Linked DNA regions of Homo sapiens: region 1 is linked to region 2. Evidence: fine-mapped QTL for protein levels in blood plasma. A gene starts in region 2. The other region holds a variant in brackets. All regions are shown on one strand. Distances are between the middles of the regions. Region 1 overlaps SLC25A20 (solute carrier family 25 member 20). Region 2 holds the start of PTH1R (parathyroid hormone 1 receptor).

What was found. A credible set is the group of variants that fine-mapping cannot tell apart. PIP is the chance, under the fine-mapping model, that this variant and not a neighbour inherited with it causes the effect. Protein levels are from antibody-based Olink assays in UK Biobank. Linkage for the fine-mapping came from a reference panel and not from the study's own genotypes, which makes the PIPs less certain.
Region 1: its variant is the best candidate, but not a certain one, in a credible set for the plasma level of the PTH1R protein (UK Biobank, PIP 0.86).

What each region holds. Positions count from the first base shown.
Region 1 is chr3:48,878,536-48,883,903 of GRCh38, forward strand. It overlaps SLC25A20 (solute carrier family 25 member 20), which reads right to left. Exons shown (of 9, transcript NM_000387.6): 4 at 823-913. Among named protein-coding and RNA genes, the nearest start is that of SLC25A20, 18 kb to the right of the region's middle. The variant G/A (reference allele first, on the strand shown) is at 3,088.
Region 2 is chr3:46,875,593-46,880,960 of GRCh38, forward strand. It overlaps PTH1R (parathyroid hormone 1 receptor), which reads left to right and starts at 2,129. Exons shown (of 16, transcript NM_000316.3): 1 at 2,129-2,251. It also overlaps a transcript of MYL3 not described here.

The sequences.
Region 1 (5,368 bases), 2.0 Mb after region 2:
ACACCTGTTATCCCAACACTTTCAGAGGCCGAGGCAGGTGGATCACTGGAGGTCAGGAGTTCAAGACCAGCCTGACCAACATGGCAAAGCCCTGTCTCTACTAAAAATATAAAAATTAGCCTGGCATGGTGGCAGGCGCCTGCAATCTCGTCTACTCAGGAGGCTGAGGCAGGAGAATCACTTGAATCCGGGAGGTGGAGGTTGCAGTTAGCCAAGATCGTGCCACTGCACTCCAGCCTGCGAAACACAGCAAGACCCCATCTCAAAAAAAAAAAAAAAAAAATTTGTAGAGATGGGATCCCACTATGTTGCCCAGGCTGGTTTTTGGTTTTGTTTTGTTTTGGTTTTGTTTTTTTGAGACAGAGTCTTGCTCTCATGCCCAGGCTGCAGTGCAGTGGCGTGACACAGCTCACTGCAACCTGTCTCCCGGGTTCAAGTGATTCTCCTGCCTCAGCCTCCCAAGTAGCTGGGATTACAGGTGCCCACCACTATACCTGGCTAATTTTTGTATTTTTAGTAGAGACGGGGTTTCACCATGTTGGCCAGGCTGGTCTCAAACTCCTGACCTCAAGTGATCCATCCTCCTCGGCTCCCAAAGTGCTGGGATTACAGGCGTAAACCACTGCACCTGGCCCCCAGGCTGGTCTTTAACTCATGGGCTCAGGCAATCCTCACACCTTGGTCTCCCAAAGTGCTAGGATTACAGGTGTGAGCCACTGCACCCAGTCCTGAAGCCTTTATTAAGGGTGAAAGGACATAAACATGCACACGAAATTATAAACTGAAAGGAAAAAGCTATTTCCCCTCCAATCACAACCTTACCTGTAATAAGCACTTGATCCGTTCTCCAGGAGTCATGATTCCTGTGGTGAATACGCCAGATAACATCCCAGCTGCAAAAAGCTGGGGATAGCTGCATTGAAAACAAAAAGCAGAAGCAAGCACCTGTGACTAACCACCGAGGACAGAGGCCAATCCCAGCAAAGAGGACAGTTTTGTAAGAAAAAAAATAAGTACTTGGACTGGGTAGAAGCCTAGCCACAAATGAATCAGATTTCGCACAAAAACTCAGTTCTAGGTATATTTTAATGTCAAATTTCCCAGAGCAAGGGTCTCAGTGGCAAGAGCAATGGGAGTCTGGCCACAAGGCCCACCCCATGTGGTACACGCTCAGAATCCCTCACCTGTAAGAGAAGTTTTATATAGTAAAACATGGCTTCCATCCATGCGCCTGCCAGGCACAGTGACTATGGACAAGTTTCCAGGCCTCTCTGAGCCTCAATTCTCCCTAGTTAACATGCTGGGGTTTTTGTGGGGGAAGTCTCTAACCCAGGATCTGGACTTTAATCTCCCCCAGTAGTTCCCCTCCAGTCTCACTTCCCCTGGATTACCAAGGGCCTGAGAACACTCTAAGCCAAGATTCAAGCAGGACAGCTTCAAGGCCAAGGAGGATGGCTGTGGCCACCTCTAAAGGCTAAGGGATAGCCAAGGCAACTGCATGCAACGTGCTGTAAGACGCTGAGAAAGGACCAGACAGGGATGATACCCAGGCAGGCATGACAGGTCCTGTGGACCCTGTACAGGGAAATAGTCCCCCAGTGTCAAGAGGTATGGGTCTTCACTCTGGCCCCCACAGAATGAACAACCCTGAGTATAAAGAGCAGTCTGAGGCTCCTACCATCTATCACCCACAGCTGTCTGTGCCACCTCTGGCATCTCCCTTTCTTTTCTTTTCTTTCGTCTTTTTGTTTGTTTGTGTTTGTTTTGAGACACGGTCTCACTCTGTCCCCAGGCTGGAGTGCAGTGAAGCGATCTCGGTGCAACCTCCACCTCCTGGGTTCAAATGATTCTCCTGCCTCAGCTCCCGAGTAGCTGGGATTACAGGAACCTGCCACCACACCCAGCTAATTTTTGTATTTTTAGTAGAGACGGAGTTTCACTATGTTAGCTAAGATGGTCTCGAACTCCTGACCTCAAGTGATCCACCCACTTCGGCCTCCCAGAGTGCTAGGGTTACAGCATGAGCCACTGTGCCCGGCTTTTTTTTTTTTTTTTTTTTTTGAAACAGGGTCTTGCTCTGTTGCCCAGGCTGGAGTGCAGTGGTGCAATCTCAGCTCACTGCAACCTCCATCTCCTGGGCTCAAGTGACCTTCCCACCTCAACCTCCTGAGTAGCTGGGACTACAGGCAAGCCGGGCTAATTTTTGCATTTTTGTAGAGACAGAGTTTCGCCATGTTGCCCAGGTTGGTCTCAAACTCCTGGGCTCAAGTGATCCTCCTGCCTTGGCCTCCCAAAGTGCTGGAATTACAGGTGTGAGCCACTGTGCCTGGCTACCTCCTTTTCTTTCTGGGATTAGCAATACCAGCACGGTTTGGAGGCAATGGGGCACAAAGTTACATTTAGCATTTCAACAGAGTTCCACAACTTAGCAAATGTTACTGAAAAACTTCACCTACTGTCCTAAGCTTCGGTGCACTCTTGACCCCAAGCCTCCAACAACTGAGCCTTCAGGTCAGTCCCATCCAACAAGGAGCTTATGAACAGATGCCAAATGGGGCTAGAGGGACATCCACTGTAAAGAGTTCACTCCAGGCAGGGCACCAGTTTCAACAGCGCGATTTCTCCCTGCATTCACCCCAGGCAGGGCTCATGCATCTACCTCAGGCACACAGCCAAGCTGACTGTCAAACAGTCAAGAGACTTGCTTTCCAACACGGCCATCTTCACAGTCCCAGTTCACATGGCTATCCCTGAGGAGTCCTCTCAGCAACTAAATTCTCCCTATGAGACCAACATGTTCCATTTTCCCCATAATGCCCAACCCTAGGCTCAGCAAACCTCATCTCTTGGGACTGGAGACTGTCTCTGAATAGGATCTCTGTGTGTGCACAGGGTGTCATGTGGACACTCAATGGCTGCCTGGCCTATTCTCCCACTCCCCACCCCCATCTCCATCCCAGGGAGGCATCTTTGAGAGCTAGACTCTCCTGGACTTCCACCCCAAGGCCCTGGTAACACTCCTTTCCATATCACCCCCAAACACCATTCCAGGGAGGTGAACACAGCAGGGCTGACAGGATTGTGGGA[G/A]TGGGGTCCTGAGTGTCTTAACTTTGTTCAGTCAGGAAGACTGTTTTTCTGAGTGCTGATGTGACTGTACAGGAACACAGCCCATAGTCCAAAGTACCAGAAGTGACCCCACGGGGGTCATGCATGGCCCTGATACATCCGTGAGCTGGCACACATGCTAAAAGACCAGGCGCTCAAAGAGGGCATGTGTCTGTGGGACACAAGGACTATCAATGGGCAAATGCAGCTCCAAAACAACCCCATCCACATTTCAGGACACTTGCAGCTATTTATAGAATCTAGGGACATTCAGAGAGTCATAAGGATCCCAGAAATAGAGTTTCACTCTACAAGCACCTCCATCTACATCCTAGACCCTCACTCAGCCTGCTGTGGCCTGAAGTGGTGACAGAATACAACCGCATGGCGCCCTGGGCTTCCTCCCTTGAGCTCCTGGATCTGAGGGCAGGCCAGCCTCTGTGGCTCCTGTACTGCCTATAGCCCCTCCCAGGGGCTGGCATCCTGCACAGCTCAGATTGTGGATACCTTTTCACCCAATATTTCCACTCAGAATTTCCCTGCCTCCTGAGAAGCCTCTGTTTTCATTAACTACTTTGTAAATTCTGAACTATAATTCTGTCTCAGGTGACTCTTCATACCCAAATCCAACTTCTTAAAGTTTATTAAAGGAAAACACATTAACTTATTCCACTTTAACAGAGAAACTAATACCTGAAATCTTTATAGTCATATTAGCATGCTGTAAAAATGAAGCACAACAAAAGTTGGAACCTTCTCTTCTCTCAATCAGGTGATAGAAAGCAAGGCTGTTCTTGTCTTTAGGGCAGCACCAGGTGCTGCCTATGACATGTCACATATATTTAAGCATTCAGACCTCTCAACAGCCTCCTGGGGTTGGTATTACAAATCTCTCCAGTAATTGATACTACCTTATAAAAGAAATACGAAAAACTGGTCAGGTGTGGTGGCTTACACCTGTAATCCTAGCACTGTGGGAGGCCAAGGCAAGAGAATTGCTTGGCTCCAGGAGTTCAAGACCAGCCTGGGCAAGATAATGAGAGCACCCCCCGCCGCCCCGACACACACACACCGACCATTGCTAAAAAAAATTTAAAAATTAGCCCAGAGTGATGGTGTGTGCCTGTAGTCCCAGCTACTTGGGGGGCTGAGGCAGAAGAATCACTTGAGCCCAGGAGTTCAAGGTTACAGTGAGTCGTGATTGCACCACTGCATTCCAGCCTGGGTGACAAAGAAAGACCCCATCTCAAAAACTCAAGTACTTGGGCTGGGCACAGTGGCTTATGCCTGTAATCCCAGCACTTTGGGGGGCCAAAGGGGGCGGATCACGAGGTCAGGAGATCGAGACCATCCTGGCTAACACGGCGAAACCCCGTCTCTACTAAAAATACAAAAAAAAAAAAAATTAGCCGGGCGTGGTGGCGGGTGCCTATAGTCCCAGCTAGTTGGAAGGCTGAGGCAGGAGAATGGTGTGAACCTGGGATGTGGAGCTTACAGTGAGCCGAGATTGCGCCACTGCACTCCAGCCTGGGCGACAGAGCAAGACTCAGTCTCGAACAAACAAAAAAAAATTTAAAATTAAAAAAATTAAAAACTCAAGTACTCCTTCATGTATAACTCCCAGGAGTTGGGCCAGGCACAGTGGCACACGCCTGAAATCCCAGCACTTTGGGAGGCCGAGGCGGGTGGATCACCTGGGGTCAGGAGATCGTGACCAGCCTAATGTGGTGAAACCCCCTCTCTACTAAACACACAAAAAAATTAGCCAGGTGTGGTGGTGCATGCCTGTAATCCGAGCTACTTGGGAGGCTAAGACAGGAGAATTGCTTGTACCTGGGAGGCGGAGGTTGCAGTGAGCCGAGATTGTGCCATTGCACTCCAGCCTGGGCAAAAAGAGCAAAACTCTGTCTCAAAAAAGAAAGAAAAAAAAAACTCCCAGGAGTCAGGCCTAGGGGCCCAGGAAGACCCACCAAGGTCCTTTTTTTTTTTTTTTTTTTTGAGATGGAGTCTTGCTCCGTTGCTCAGGTTGGAGTGCAGTGGTGCCATCTCGGCTCACTGCAACCTCTTGCCTCCCAAGTTCAAGCGATTCTCCTGCCTCGGCCTTCCAAGTAGCTGGGACTACAGGCGCCTGCCACAACACCCAGCTAATTTTTTTGTATTTTTAGTAGAGACAGGGTTTTGCCATGTTGGCCAAGCTGGACTCGACCTCCTGACCTCAGGTGATCCACCCGCCTCAGTCTCCCAAAGTGCTAGGATTACAGGT
Region 2 (5,368 bases):
TCAACCTCCACCACCTCCCTGGATTTCCCAACTGCTCCACAATGTGCATGGGGCAAGAACTGTTACGACGCTGCAAATACCTGGAAACTCAGGCGAGTCTCAGGCTCCCACCCACCATCCCACTTATGCCTCACTCATGCCCCACCTGCTGCCCACAGCTCCCAGCAGGTCTGGGGGCGGCATCCAGCCTTGGCATCCAGGCGTTCTGAACCTCAGGGAGCCCCAAAGGGTTTATGGGTCTCCCAATGAATGGGAGCCTGTTGAGCTCGGAGGGGGCCGGGCCCGAGTAAACATGGCTGGGTCTGAGCTGCCATTCTCCCCCTACCTCTTCCCCAGAACCCAGGACCAAAATACAACTTCCTGTCCCCGGAGCTGAGGGCCAGACTTGCCCCCCAGAGCCCTGGGCTGGGGCCCACAGGAGGAACGCAAACTGGCAGGCCCAAGGCTCGAGGAGAGAAAGGCCTTCAGGTTTTCAGACTCCCAGGTCTGCTTGCATCCAAGACCCAAGTGCCTGGGCACTTTACAGATCCCCTTTGAGCCTGAAACTGCCCAACTGTTAACAACAGATCAGGAAACTGAGGCCATGAGCAGGAAGGCGTCTGGCTCAGGGATCCACAGGTCAAAGCAGAAAAGGCCCCAGCCTCCTGCTTCCCTGGCCAGTGAGGATGGGGCCTGTGGGCAGGGTAGGGCAGTGCATGTGGACTCAGGGGAGGTAGAGGCTCTGGCAGTCAAGAGCCAGGGCAACAGGGAGGCTTGACAGAGCACAGGGGAACTCTCCCTCCTTTGGGCACAACTGCCCACTGACCTCCGCTGGCCTGGTCACAGAATAGCCTACGTGTCCCAGGATACCCCTTGGAGCAGTGCACTTCAGAGTAGCTGGGGCAGGAGTCCCATAAGTGCTGTTTGTCATAGTTTCACTATGTCCCCTGGCCAGTCCATTCTGCTCTTTGGTCCCGTTTCCTCCACCTGGAGGCCAGGTATCACCGAGCCTGCCTCCCTGACTAACTTGTGAAACAAAAAGTACTTTGGAAACTCTAATGAGTGGTACCCTCCCCAGGAGCCTGGAAGACCCAGGGAGGGGGGCCCTAGGAATGTGCCCAATGGCTGGGGGTGGTTGGGGCCAGCTGCCTCACATGCAGGGCACTGGGGGCTACAGCTGGAATGTGCTGAGTGGCAGCTGCCACGTGAATCATTATACCTCATCAGGCTGAGCCTAGGACTTCCAGACACAAACCAGCTCAGACTGGGCTCAGGCAGAAGGGCAGCCTCCAGCCGGGTCACAGGGCCTGGGGGTGAGGTTTCTGGGATCTTGCAGGGTCTCTGCCTCCCTGTCTGCCCACATCTTCATCCTGAGCAACCAGCCCTGGTTCTGAACACAGCTCGTTCTACAGACCCACAGAGAGAAGTCATCCTGTCCACAGCCCCCTGCCTTTGAGACCTGTGACAGCTTAAGCAGACCCTGGGCCTGGAAGGGCCTGGGAGGCAGATAGGGAGGGCTTCCTGGCTGACTCCTCACCAGGAGCCCACATTCCAGTGGGCAAGGAGTCAGATATGAGGTGGCTGTGGGGCTGTAGGGGTCAGGACACGGGCTGGAGTGGAATGACGGCCCCCTCCATCTCTTCCGTCTAGGAGCCACTGGGTACCCAGTGCTGGCAGATCAGGCTTTCTTGGGCCTCAGTTTTCCTGCCTGTGACACAGGCAAGAACCACCTCCAGCCCCCCTCTGATTTCTCTGGGTGCCTTAAACTTGAGTGAAGTCACTAGTAGGGGCTGTGTTCATACCTCGTGGCAGCCTGATATTCCTGAGATGTGGAAAGGACCAGAGGGTTAGACAGGGACACAGAGACTAAGAGAGAGGCATGGCAGGGCAAGGAGAGGACTATTGAGGCACACACACGTGTCTGGCAGCCTGAGTGGGCCCAGTTACCTGGCAGGCAGACCCATGGGTGCTGAGGGGAGGGCCCAGCCCTGGGCATCTGAACACCGGCACACTTGGATCTGCCTCTGTTGCCTCCTACTCCTGACTAGGAGCCTGGGACAAAGTCCTGGGCCAGTGTAGGGCTTGGTAAAAAATAATTAATTTTCTTTTCAAGTGGAAGCTCTGACTCAGGTCTTTTCTTGTCCCCAGCAGCACTATCCTTGCTTAGGCCTGAGCCACAGAAGCTGCTCAGGGACTATCCATGGCCTCCCCGTGGCCAACTTGAGTCTGCTCTGCAGCTTTAGGCCCGACTTGGAAGGCCCATGGGCTGCAGGTGAGTGGGGGCCAGGGGAGCCTAGGGGCCTGAGCACAGCTGGGAAGCCCAAGTCTGTGGTTTCCCTGGGGGTGAGTGTCTAAATACCTGGGCCGTGCTATGGGGCAGACAAGACATGCCCGCATGGAGACACATCTGTGGACCTGGTGTTATGACAGCAGGGGGCTTGTAACCATGAGGCCAGCAGGGACAGAAAGCCCATACCTCTAGCTCCTTGGGAGCCTTAGGAGTGCTCCCTGGTTGGGACAGAGCCTGCTGGCCCCAGGTGCCCCCATCGCCCCTCCCTTCACCTTCCTGAGAGGCAAGAAAGCCAGGCAGCCATGCTTCTGCTGCAAGGGAAGGGGGCTACCCAGCCAGCTGCCATGGGAGCCTCCAGCGACTCAGCTGGGTGTCAGGGGGTGTTTATGAGCAGCCGAAATGGCTGTAAAAGTGGCACCTCGCTTCACTTATGGCCTAGCCATCCCCTCCCCTACTGGGCTCTTGCCTCAAAAAGTTTCCAGAGGGGCCTAGAAGCCGAGAGAGGTCTGGGGTTGAGGGCTGGGTGGAGGCACAACCTGGGGTCAGAGTTCAGCCAGGGGCTAGAAATCAGACTGGGATAAGAACTCAGCCTGAGGCTGGGGCTCATGATGGAGATAGAGCTCAGTCTGGGATCAGGGCTAAGCTTGGATGCAGCCTGACTTTGGGGCTAGTGTTGGGATGAAGCACTGGGGAAATATAAGGACTCAGAAATAGATGTGAGCCATTAGTCCCAGAGAACCCCTGGTCTGGCCAAGGGGTTTTCTGAGGGAGGAAGGCCAGGCTGCATTGCTCAGACAGCTGAGCCTCTTGCCTTGCTTGTTGGTGTCTGATGCCCACCCTGGCCCCAGGGTCTGTGTACCTTGGCCAGAGCCCTACTCACGGTGGGATGGCTGCAGCAGAGGCCTGTCAGCCTGGGGCTGCCACACCAGCAGGGGTGGGGCCAGAGTCTGGCCCCTACTGCAGTTCTGAGATCCAGTGACCACCCTGGCTCCTCCTCCTAGGCCCCAGCCTGGGGATTAGAGACAGGGACTCACTCCTACTCCCCACCCCCAGCCAGGCCTTTTCAAACCCCATTGAAACTAACACTGACCTGACACTAACCAGAAACTGACTCTGAGCCCCTGGGGCGTGCTTGTCAAAAAGGGCAAGCTGACTCTGCCAGGTGCTTGGGTGCTACCAGTTAATGTGTGACACCCCCACCCTCATGGTAGCACTTTAACCAGAGGCCCGAGGGTGAGAGAGATGATCTGTGGCCCCACCCACAGCTGTGGAATGTCCAGCAGGGGACTCTGGGGTGAGGCACATGAGTTATGGCAGGAGGAATGCCCTTAAGGGACCCAGCACCCATCAGATTCCTCTCTGCAGCCCTCTCCACAGCCCACCCTCATCCTCCCAAGTACAAGTAGTATGTTTCCAAATCTCAAGTTTTCCCTGGTGTCAGATCTGAAAAGAACTCCTCCCCTCAGCCTCTAGTTTTATCTCTCAGTCCTTCCAATCCCTCCATTAATGTTCTTTTCTCATCACCAAGGGGGAAAGCAGGGTGGAAGATCAGTGGTCACAGAACCATAAAACTTAGAGACACTTAGAAACAGAGGCATAGGCCAGGTGCGGTGGTTCATGCCTGTAATCCCAGCACTTTGGGAGGCCGAGGCAGGAGGACTGCTTGAGCCCAAGAGTTGGAGACCAGTCTAGGCAACAAAGTGAGACCTCGTCTCTACAAAAAAAAAATTTTTTAATTACCCAGGTGTGGTAGCTCATGCCTGTGGTGCCAGCTACATGAGAGGCTGAGGTGAGAGGATTGCTTGAGCCCAGGAGGTCAAGGCTGCTGTGAGCCATGACCGTGCCACTGCACTCCAGCCTGGGTGACACAGCAAGACCCTGTCTGGGGAAAAAAAAAATGCTGCGTGTGGTGGCTCACGCTTGTAATCTCAACACTTTGGGAGGCCGAGACAGGATCACTTGAGGCCAGGAGTTTGAAACCAGCCTGGCCAACATGGAGAAACCCCATCTCCACTACAAATGCAAAAATTAGCCAGGCGTGGTGGTGCACAACTATAATGCCAGCTACTCAGGAGGCTGAGGCCAGAGAATTGCTTGAACCCGGGAGGTGGAGGTTGCAGTCAGCCGAGATCGCACCACTGCACTCCAGCCTGGCCAACAGCCCTGTCTCAAAAAAGAAAAGAAACAGAGGCATAATAAAGCTGAGACCATTAAAATATAACACTGAAGAACCACAAGTGTTCTTTAGGTGCCCATTCTGGCACCTGGGCCTCCGTCCCAAGGAGGCTACATACCATAGGAGGCAGCCCTGAAATCACAACCTCCCTCCCCAGTAACGGAGGATGTGGGCACACAAGGAGGGAGGGGAGTGTCCTTTACACCAGGCAGAAGAGTATGATCCTGGCAGAGGAAGCAGCAAGGACAAAGGCAGGAGAGTGGATGTGTGAAGAAGACCAGGAGTCTAGCAGACAGTTCCTGTTAGGGAGAGTCATTTTTGGAGGAAACTGTCTCAAATAGCACAGCCCTTGAACACCAGAAAAAGAAATGAGGGCAGTGGGCACAGAGAAGGGAGGCAGCCATAGAAATGCATGGGGAGGGCCAAGGCTGGTGGTTCATACCTGTAATCCCAGCACTTTGGGAGGCTGAGGCAGGTGGATCACTTGAGGTCAGGGGTTCGTGACCAGCCTGGTCAACATGGTGAAACCCCGTCTCTACCAAGAAATGCAAAAATTAGCCAGGTTGGTGGTACACACCTGTAGTCCCAGCTACTTGGGAGAATCACTTGAGCCTGGGAAGCGGAGGTTGCAGTGAGCAGAGATCATGCCACTGGACTCCAGCCTGGGTGACAAAGTGAGACTTTGTCTTGAAGAAGAAGAAGAAGGAGAAGGAGAAGAAAGAAGAAGAAAGTAGCAGCAGAAGAAATACATGGGGAATGCACCTGGGAGTGCAGTCTGGAAGCTGGATGGGCTTGAGCCAGCAGAAGGGTGGCTGCAGCTGGATCCTAGGCCTTAGGACTTGGGCTTGACAGATTTGCACTGAGGGTTGGAGGGCAGGTTTGCAGGCTCCGAGGAGCTCAATATCCACAGGCTGAGTCTTGAG